2 separate regions of the Homo sapiens genome follow, and region 1 is reported to be linked to region 2. Evidence: microRNA targets listed by miRTarBase, many of them from high-throughput screens and not tested one by one. Region 2 holds a microRNA gene; the other region holds the end of a gene's coding sequence.

What was found. The annotated mature microRNA hsa-miR-3934-3p reads UGCUCAGGUUGCACAGCUGGGA and lies in region 2 at 945-966, shown strand. An mRNA with a match to its seed (bases 2 to 7 or 8) in the 3' UTR can be bound and repressed. Matches are read on the target gene's strand: a 7mer-m8 pairs with bases 2 to 8, a 7mer-A1 pairs with bases 2 to 7 and ends in A, and an 8mer does both.
Region 1: the mRNA of PARVB is a reported target of hsa-miR-3934-3p. Seed matches in the 3' UTR shown: 8mer at 3,275-3,282.

What each region holds. Positions count from the first base shown.
Region 1 is chr22:44,168,193-44,171,715 of GRCh38, forward strand. It overlaps PARVB (parvin beta), which reads left to right. Exons shown (of 13, transcript NM_013327.5): 13 at 410-3,523. The coding sequence ends at 486. Among named protein-coding and RNA genes, the nearest start is that of PARVG, 11 kb to the right of the region's middle. RefSeq lists enhancers at 1-14, 1,905-2,426.
Region 2 is chr6:33,697,247-33,700,294 of GRCh38, forward strand. MIR3934 (microRNA 3934) reads left to right here and starts at 882; the gene lies at 882-988. It overlaps UQCC2 (ubiquinol-cytochrome c reductase complex assembly factor 2), which reads right to left. Exons shown (of 4, transcript NM_032340.4): 4 at 1-504. The coding sequence ends at 407. RefSeq lists an enhancer at 310-1,285.

The sequences.
Region 1 (3,523 bases), not on the chromosome of region 2:
ATAAAGAAAGTGGCCCAAGACTTCCAGGGCCCCAGAGGGAGCTGTCGGGTCCATTAAGTGTTACTGGGGTTTTTGGTCCCGGTAAGTGTCATTAGCCATGTCCCCCAACCGGTTCTTAGACATGTCCTGATGCAGATCCAGGAGGGGCTGTGGGAGTGTCTCTGTTCTTGTCACCCCAGGTGCCTGTCCCCGCAGGGTGTCAGCCCGCGCCAGGAGCTCTCACAAAACCTGTGTGTCTGGGGAGGCACTGCCCAGAGCGTCCTGGACATGGTGGTGGCCAGTCTTTAAGGGGAAGCGCTGTGTGTGGATGCGGCAGCTGGTGTCATGCTGGAGACGTGGCTTCTGAGAGTACCTACCGCAATGACAGGAGGATGGCACGCCTCTGAAGTTTCTCTGTTTCCTTCTGCAGACGTGGTTAACTTGGACCTCAAATCCACCCTGAGGGTTCTTTACAACCTGTTCACCAAGTACAAGAACGTGGAGTGACGGGGGAGCTGTGGATGGTGGCAGGAGTGTCCCAGCAAGAAAGGCGGCATCCGTCTGTGCCCTGTGCCTTTCCAGGGAGCCAGGCGCCATGGGCTTCTGGTCCAAGCTGTGTTGACTGTCATCCCCACCCCACCCCTACCTCACGCCTGCCCCACCCCCTGCCTCTTTTGGTTGTTGTTCTTAATCTCCTCTCCATGTAGTTCCCAGTGGGCAAGAGCCTTTGAAAATGCAGGATTCTAAACACTCGTGCTTGCGTTTGAAGCCTCGCGTCACTCAGTCGCGTGGGATGATGAGTCCGTTGTTGTCTGCCTTGGCCGAAAGATGAAAAAAAGCCTGAACCCCAACCCCCAGCTGGTTGAGAGCACCCTGCATTCTGCCTCATGGTGCAGTTAGCGATCACAGGCCTTCAGAAGTACAACATCAGCTCAGCAGGAACGCCGGCTCCCCGAGGACCCAGGCTTGACGATTCACCGGGGATCTCCTGGGCTGGGCTCTCCTTGGAAGTGAGGCCTTTTATTAAAAATAAAAGGGTTTTGCAGTTTGAAAAACTTTAAAGTCCCAGAAGCTTAGATGTGACATGGGTGTCCTCCACCCACATTCCTATCACTTCTTGGTCACTCGTTTTAATGTAGGTTTTGCACAAACATCCAAGACTCAGGATGGCCCAGCTCCCACAGTCCTTGAAAGGAGCTGTCTGCTGGGGACGTTTCTTAATTTCTTGCTGTGGTTGAGGGGCTGGGTCTGGAGATGGCTCTAATTGTGCTGCTTGAGACAGCTTGGGTCACAGCTTTCCCCTTCAGAGGCCCTTTTTGGGAATGAATGCATCTTTGGAAACTTTAAAATGAGGGGGGTGCATTGGTTCACTGGCACTGTGTAGTAAAGTGCCACAGGGGAGTGGCTCAGACATCAGAGAATTACATCCTCAGGCCTTTCGCCTTGGCTTGTAGATGCCGGCTTCTCCCCGTGTCTTCACATGGTCTCCCCTCTGTGTGTCTGTGTCCTCACCGCCTCTTTTATTTTATTTTTTATTTTTGTTTTTATTTTTTGAGACAGAGTCTCGCTCTGTCACCAGGCTGGAGTGCAGTGGTGTGATCTCAGCTCACTGCAACCTCTGCCTCCCAGGTTCAAGCGATTCTCCTGCCTCAGCCTCCCAAGTAGCTGGCATTACAGGCAGGTGCCACCACACCTGGCTAATTTTTGTATTTTTAGTAGAGACGGGGTTTCACCATGTTGGCCAGGATGGTCTTGATCTCCTGACCTCATGATCTGCCTGCCTCAGCCTCCCAAAGTGTTGGGATTACAGGCGTGAGCCACTGTGCCCAGCCTATTTTTTTTTTTTTTTTTGAGACAAGTTCTCACTGTGTCACCCAGGAGTAAAGTGGTGCCATCTCAGCTCACTGCAGCCTTGATCTCCCAGGCTCAATTGATCCTCCCACCTCAGCCTCCCAAGTAGCGGGGACCACAAGTGCACACCACTAGGCCCATCTAATTTTTGTATTTTTTGTAGAGATGGGGTTTCACCATGTTGCCCAGGCTGTTCTCAAACCCCTGGGCTTGAGCGACCCACCCACCTCAGCCTCCCAAAGTGCTGGGATTATAGGCATGAGCGGACATGCCCAGCCTGCACCCCTCTTTTTAGAAGGGCTGCGGTCCTATTGGATTAGGGCCCACTTATATGACCTCATTTAATCTTGATTACCTCCATAAAGACCCTGTCTCCAAATACCATCACATCAGAGGTGCTGGGGTTAGGACTTCAGCATGTGGATTTGTGGGGGGCATAATTTGCCTTGTACCGGGAGGATATGAAGTGTTCATGTTACTCTCCCTGTAGCCCTGAGAGCATCTCCCTTAGAGTATCCTATAAAAGGAGTCGCTGCTCACTCAGTTATGGGTTGTTCACCCCCTCGCTCACCCCAGCTCTGCAGAGAACTGGGGATCCCATCGGCCATGCTTTCTGGGCTGGCCTCTGGTCGCAGTCAGTCCCTCGCTGTGGCGCCCCCCCCTCCCCCAGCTCCTTCCCAGGGTGATGACCCGCTGACCCCCTGGGGTGCACCTGCTGCAAAGCAGCCCCCTTCCTTGGCATCTCTCAGCATTCTCCGTAGTGAGCCTGGCCTTTCTGATCTTGTTAGCTTTTTGTCTTCCTGCCGCAGATCAGAGCTTTGGAGTAAGTTTTGATATGAAATCGAATGCCAACACCGAAGTTTTAGAAAACAGTTTAATATTCCCTCTCAGTTCCGGCTGTTGCTAGGCTGGGGATGGGTTCAGAATAGCCATTTTGATGGAGGTGATTTCCCAGCAGGGGAAAGAAATAATTAAAACAGCATTACGGTGTCTCTTGCGGGATGCAGTGACATTCAAAAGCCACACTGACAAAAAGCCTGGGGCTGGAACGTTCTGTGCTGCCTGCATGGCATGTACAGGACCGCGGCCCCCTGGAGCTGGTGGAGTGGCCCAGCCTTGCCCTGCTCACAGGTGGACCTGGAGAGGGCACTGTGCCTTCCCAGGGATTGGGATTTGAAAAGAACAGAGCTTGGCCAGGTGCGGTGGCTCACGCCTGTAATCCCAGCACTTTGGGAGGCTGAGGCAGGTGGATCACTTGGGGTCAGAAGTTCGAGACCAGCCTGGCCAACATGGTGAAACCCCATGTCTACTAAAAATACAAAAATTAGCCATGCATGGTATGTATGCCTGTAATCCCAGCTATTCGGGAGGCTGAGGCAGGAGAATTGCATGAACCCAGGAGGTGGAAGTTGCAGTGAGCTGAGATCATGCCACTGCACTCCAGCCTGAGCAACAGAGTGAGACTCTGTCTCAAAAAAAAAAAAGAAAGAAAAAAGAAAAAGAAAAGAACAGAGCTGTGATTTTCAGCCAAAATGAGCAGCCCTGGCCCATTCTGTGTCATCAGAGGGGAGAGGACGGTTACTGTGGGAGGGGGCTTCAGCTTCTCAGGGAGGTCCTGGCGGCCCCCATCTAGTAAACCAGTAAACCCATGCCTATCCTCATGCCCACGTCACACTCTTGTGGGTTTCAAGTC
Region 2 (3,048 bases):
AGTATTTACTGCTATTTTTGGCTTCCTCCCAGGAGCTCCTACAACAAAAGGGAGCCTGAGTATCTTGCCAGGAGACACCAGACCCGTGCCAGAGGGGCGGGGGCTCCCGTGGCAATGCAGGAAGCACCTTGTGCCGAGGCCCCATTACCCTCATCAGGCCCAGAGGGAAACCTGCATTTCCTCTCCCCAGGAGATTTCCCTACCCTGAGCAGCAGTCACAGCAGATAGCTCAATCACCATCCCTTCTCAGGCTGAAACTTTCTTTAGAGCAGCAAGGGCTTCCTTTCTGGGAAAGCTAGAGGAGATTCCCAAACCGTAAGGTCAAGGGGAAACTGGGGCAGTTTTATTGACGATGGCAATGTACAAGACTCCACACCTAGGTATGTGCACGAGGTAAGGCCTGAGCTCAGGCCTTATGATCCTCCTCAGGACCCTTGGGGGCAAACTTCTCCTGCAGTTTCTTCCACATGCCTTTATCTATTTCCTTAAGCTCTTCCAAGGTGTCTGCAAAAGGGGAAGACAAAAAGAGAGAGGGACTGAAGTCTAAAACTTGATGACATAGATTGGACCCACTGGGCTTTCCCGACACAAGCATGGCTTGCTTTTCACACAGTGTGTTCCTGAAAAAGGTGGAGACCCAGCTCCTGAAGAGCAGATCAAACAGGTAACAGAAGTGACCGCTTGCGGGGACTGAGCACTGTGTGCCAGACTCTGTGCCCAGCACGCTGTCAGTGGTCTCCTGCCCTCTCCTCACCCTCGGCATCAAAGCGGGATGTGCTGCTCGTTGCCCTGCTCCGTATGAGGGCAAAGAAATGGCCCTGCGCTGTCCGCTGTGCAACCCACAGACCCAGATGCTTCATCGCAAAATTTGGCCTGCTCCACACAGCCCTTCCTGTCCCCAGTTTTCAGGTGTGGAAACTGAGGCAGGAGGCAGTGAAGTAACTTGCTCAGGTTGCACAGCTGGGAAGTGGAGCAGGGATTTGAATCCTGGTGTGTGGACTCAGCACATGCTGTGGAGTTGAGCAGGCACTGGGAGGGGGATGGCCTTGGGCCTGAATCCGAGCCCATCATCTCCCACTCTGGGTCCCCTCAAGCAAATTACTTAACCCTCTACGCTTCGGGTTCCTCATCTGTAAAATGAAGATAAAAACACACATCTGCAGACAACTTGGGGAGAGGTGAAAAAGTAAGAAAAAAAAAACCACACGTACCTCAAAAGTTGTAAGGATTAAAGAAAAGCATGGAGGTAACTCGCTTGGCACACAGCCCGCACTCAATGAAAAGGCAGCCATCATCCACCACAATGCAGGCGGGAGGGGCTCTTGTTTAAGAACATACACGTCCCTACACCCAGGAACCAAAGCAGGGTTTCTTGGCCTTGGCACTACCAACACTTTGGGCCAGATAATTTTTCGTCGTGGGCTGGCCTGTGCATCACTGAAGGCTGTTTCAAAGCATCCTGGCCTCTACCCACTAATGCCAGTAGCACCGCTGCCCGCACCACCAGTTGTGACAACTAAAAATGTCTCCAGACATTGCCACATGTCCCCTGGGGGGCAAAACCATCCCCCCAGTACGGAACCATTTGTCTAAAGTCTCTAGGGCTAATGTTCCATGAAATCTAATTTTACGTGCATGTTAAATTTTAGATATTCTTATAATATTGTTTTGCTTTACCAGCCTAAATTTTCACGTTAACAAAACTACTGGAGAAAAAAAGAGTATCTTTTCTGACCAAAAAAGGTAACAGAAAAAAGCCCCTGCTCTGGAGCTTTTCCAGAAGTCCATGTTTCCAGTGTCCAGGTGGACACTGAGGCCTCCCTTAGGCGCTTTCCATGACCCCAATCCCAGGGTGGACACACACATAACCCAGAACACAGCACATTTCAGACTTGCCAGGCCCTCAAAGCCTCTCACTACAAGGTGCTGCAGGTCTTTTCTTGTCCTGTCAGAGGAAACATTTGGTAAGCTTACGCCACACAATTTGCAACAAAAATATGAGGCTTGCTGTGAAAACAAATTCTCAGCAAATTTCCTGAACTAAACTCGCTGCCAGAACAAGCTGCAGCGCGGACCAATGGCGGGACTATCTCCCAGCCTTCGTTGCTGCCTGTTTTCCACTTGCAGAGGCTGCCCTGAGGTGAACAAAACAGAGGGCAGAGGCAGGGCCTCTGGAACTTACTTCCGCCCTCACTTCAAGTTCAAACTTTGCTCAAACTGTCCAGGGCCCTCACAATAATGTGCATCAATGCTGCTAATTACACGGACCCAGGGATATAGGAGTAAATTTACACATTAAAAAAAATTGCCAATAAAGTGATTCTGCCTGGCCAAAATATCTTCACCACAGTTTCCCAGAGAGTACTGGAATAAAAATAGGGTTAGAGTTGACATGTAATAGCAGGTGACACCACCAGGTTTTAATCTCAGAAGAGAGTTTTCTAGAAGCCCAAATCCTCAAAACTTAAGTTGCTGAAGGCTGCCAGAAGAAGAGGAAAGACACATTTCTAGAATACCAGAAGGAAATGTGTCAGGGCCATGCCCTCCCAGAAAAGGTTAACCTATTTTTGTATATAATATACTTGGCAACAAAAATAGTAATTTTCCAGTACCTGCCTACTTCATCCCTGGCTCTCCGGCCCCCCTCCTTAGGGACAATGGAGATAGGGAAGTAAGGAAAGGACGGGCTTGGCAGGATGTTTCCTTTCTTGATAATCAGAGTCTATCAATGACTCTAAAACATACCTAGTTAAACTCATATCTAACCCACAGACCACGTCCCCTGGGTCACATAACTCTTAGGCGGATATCCCCAAACACGTTTATTGAATGGTTTTTTGTTTTAATTAAAACCTTCATTGTTTATAAAGCCCTCTTAAGACCATAAAAATAAAATTATTTTCCTTCCATCCTGATTTCAACTACTTCCATTTGGCAAATAGGTATTCCTCTGTTCCCTGATGCCCAGCCTTGAATTTAAAAGCCCTAAAGATAGATTTTCTTTTTTAAATAACGCCTTTGACCTTCTCCACAGTATATGGTCAAAAT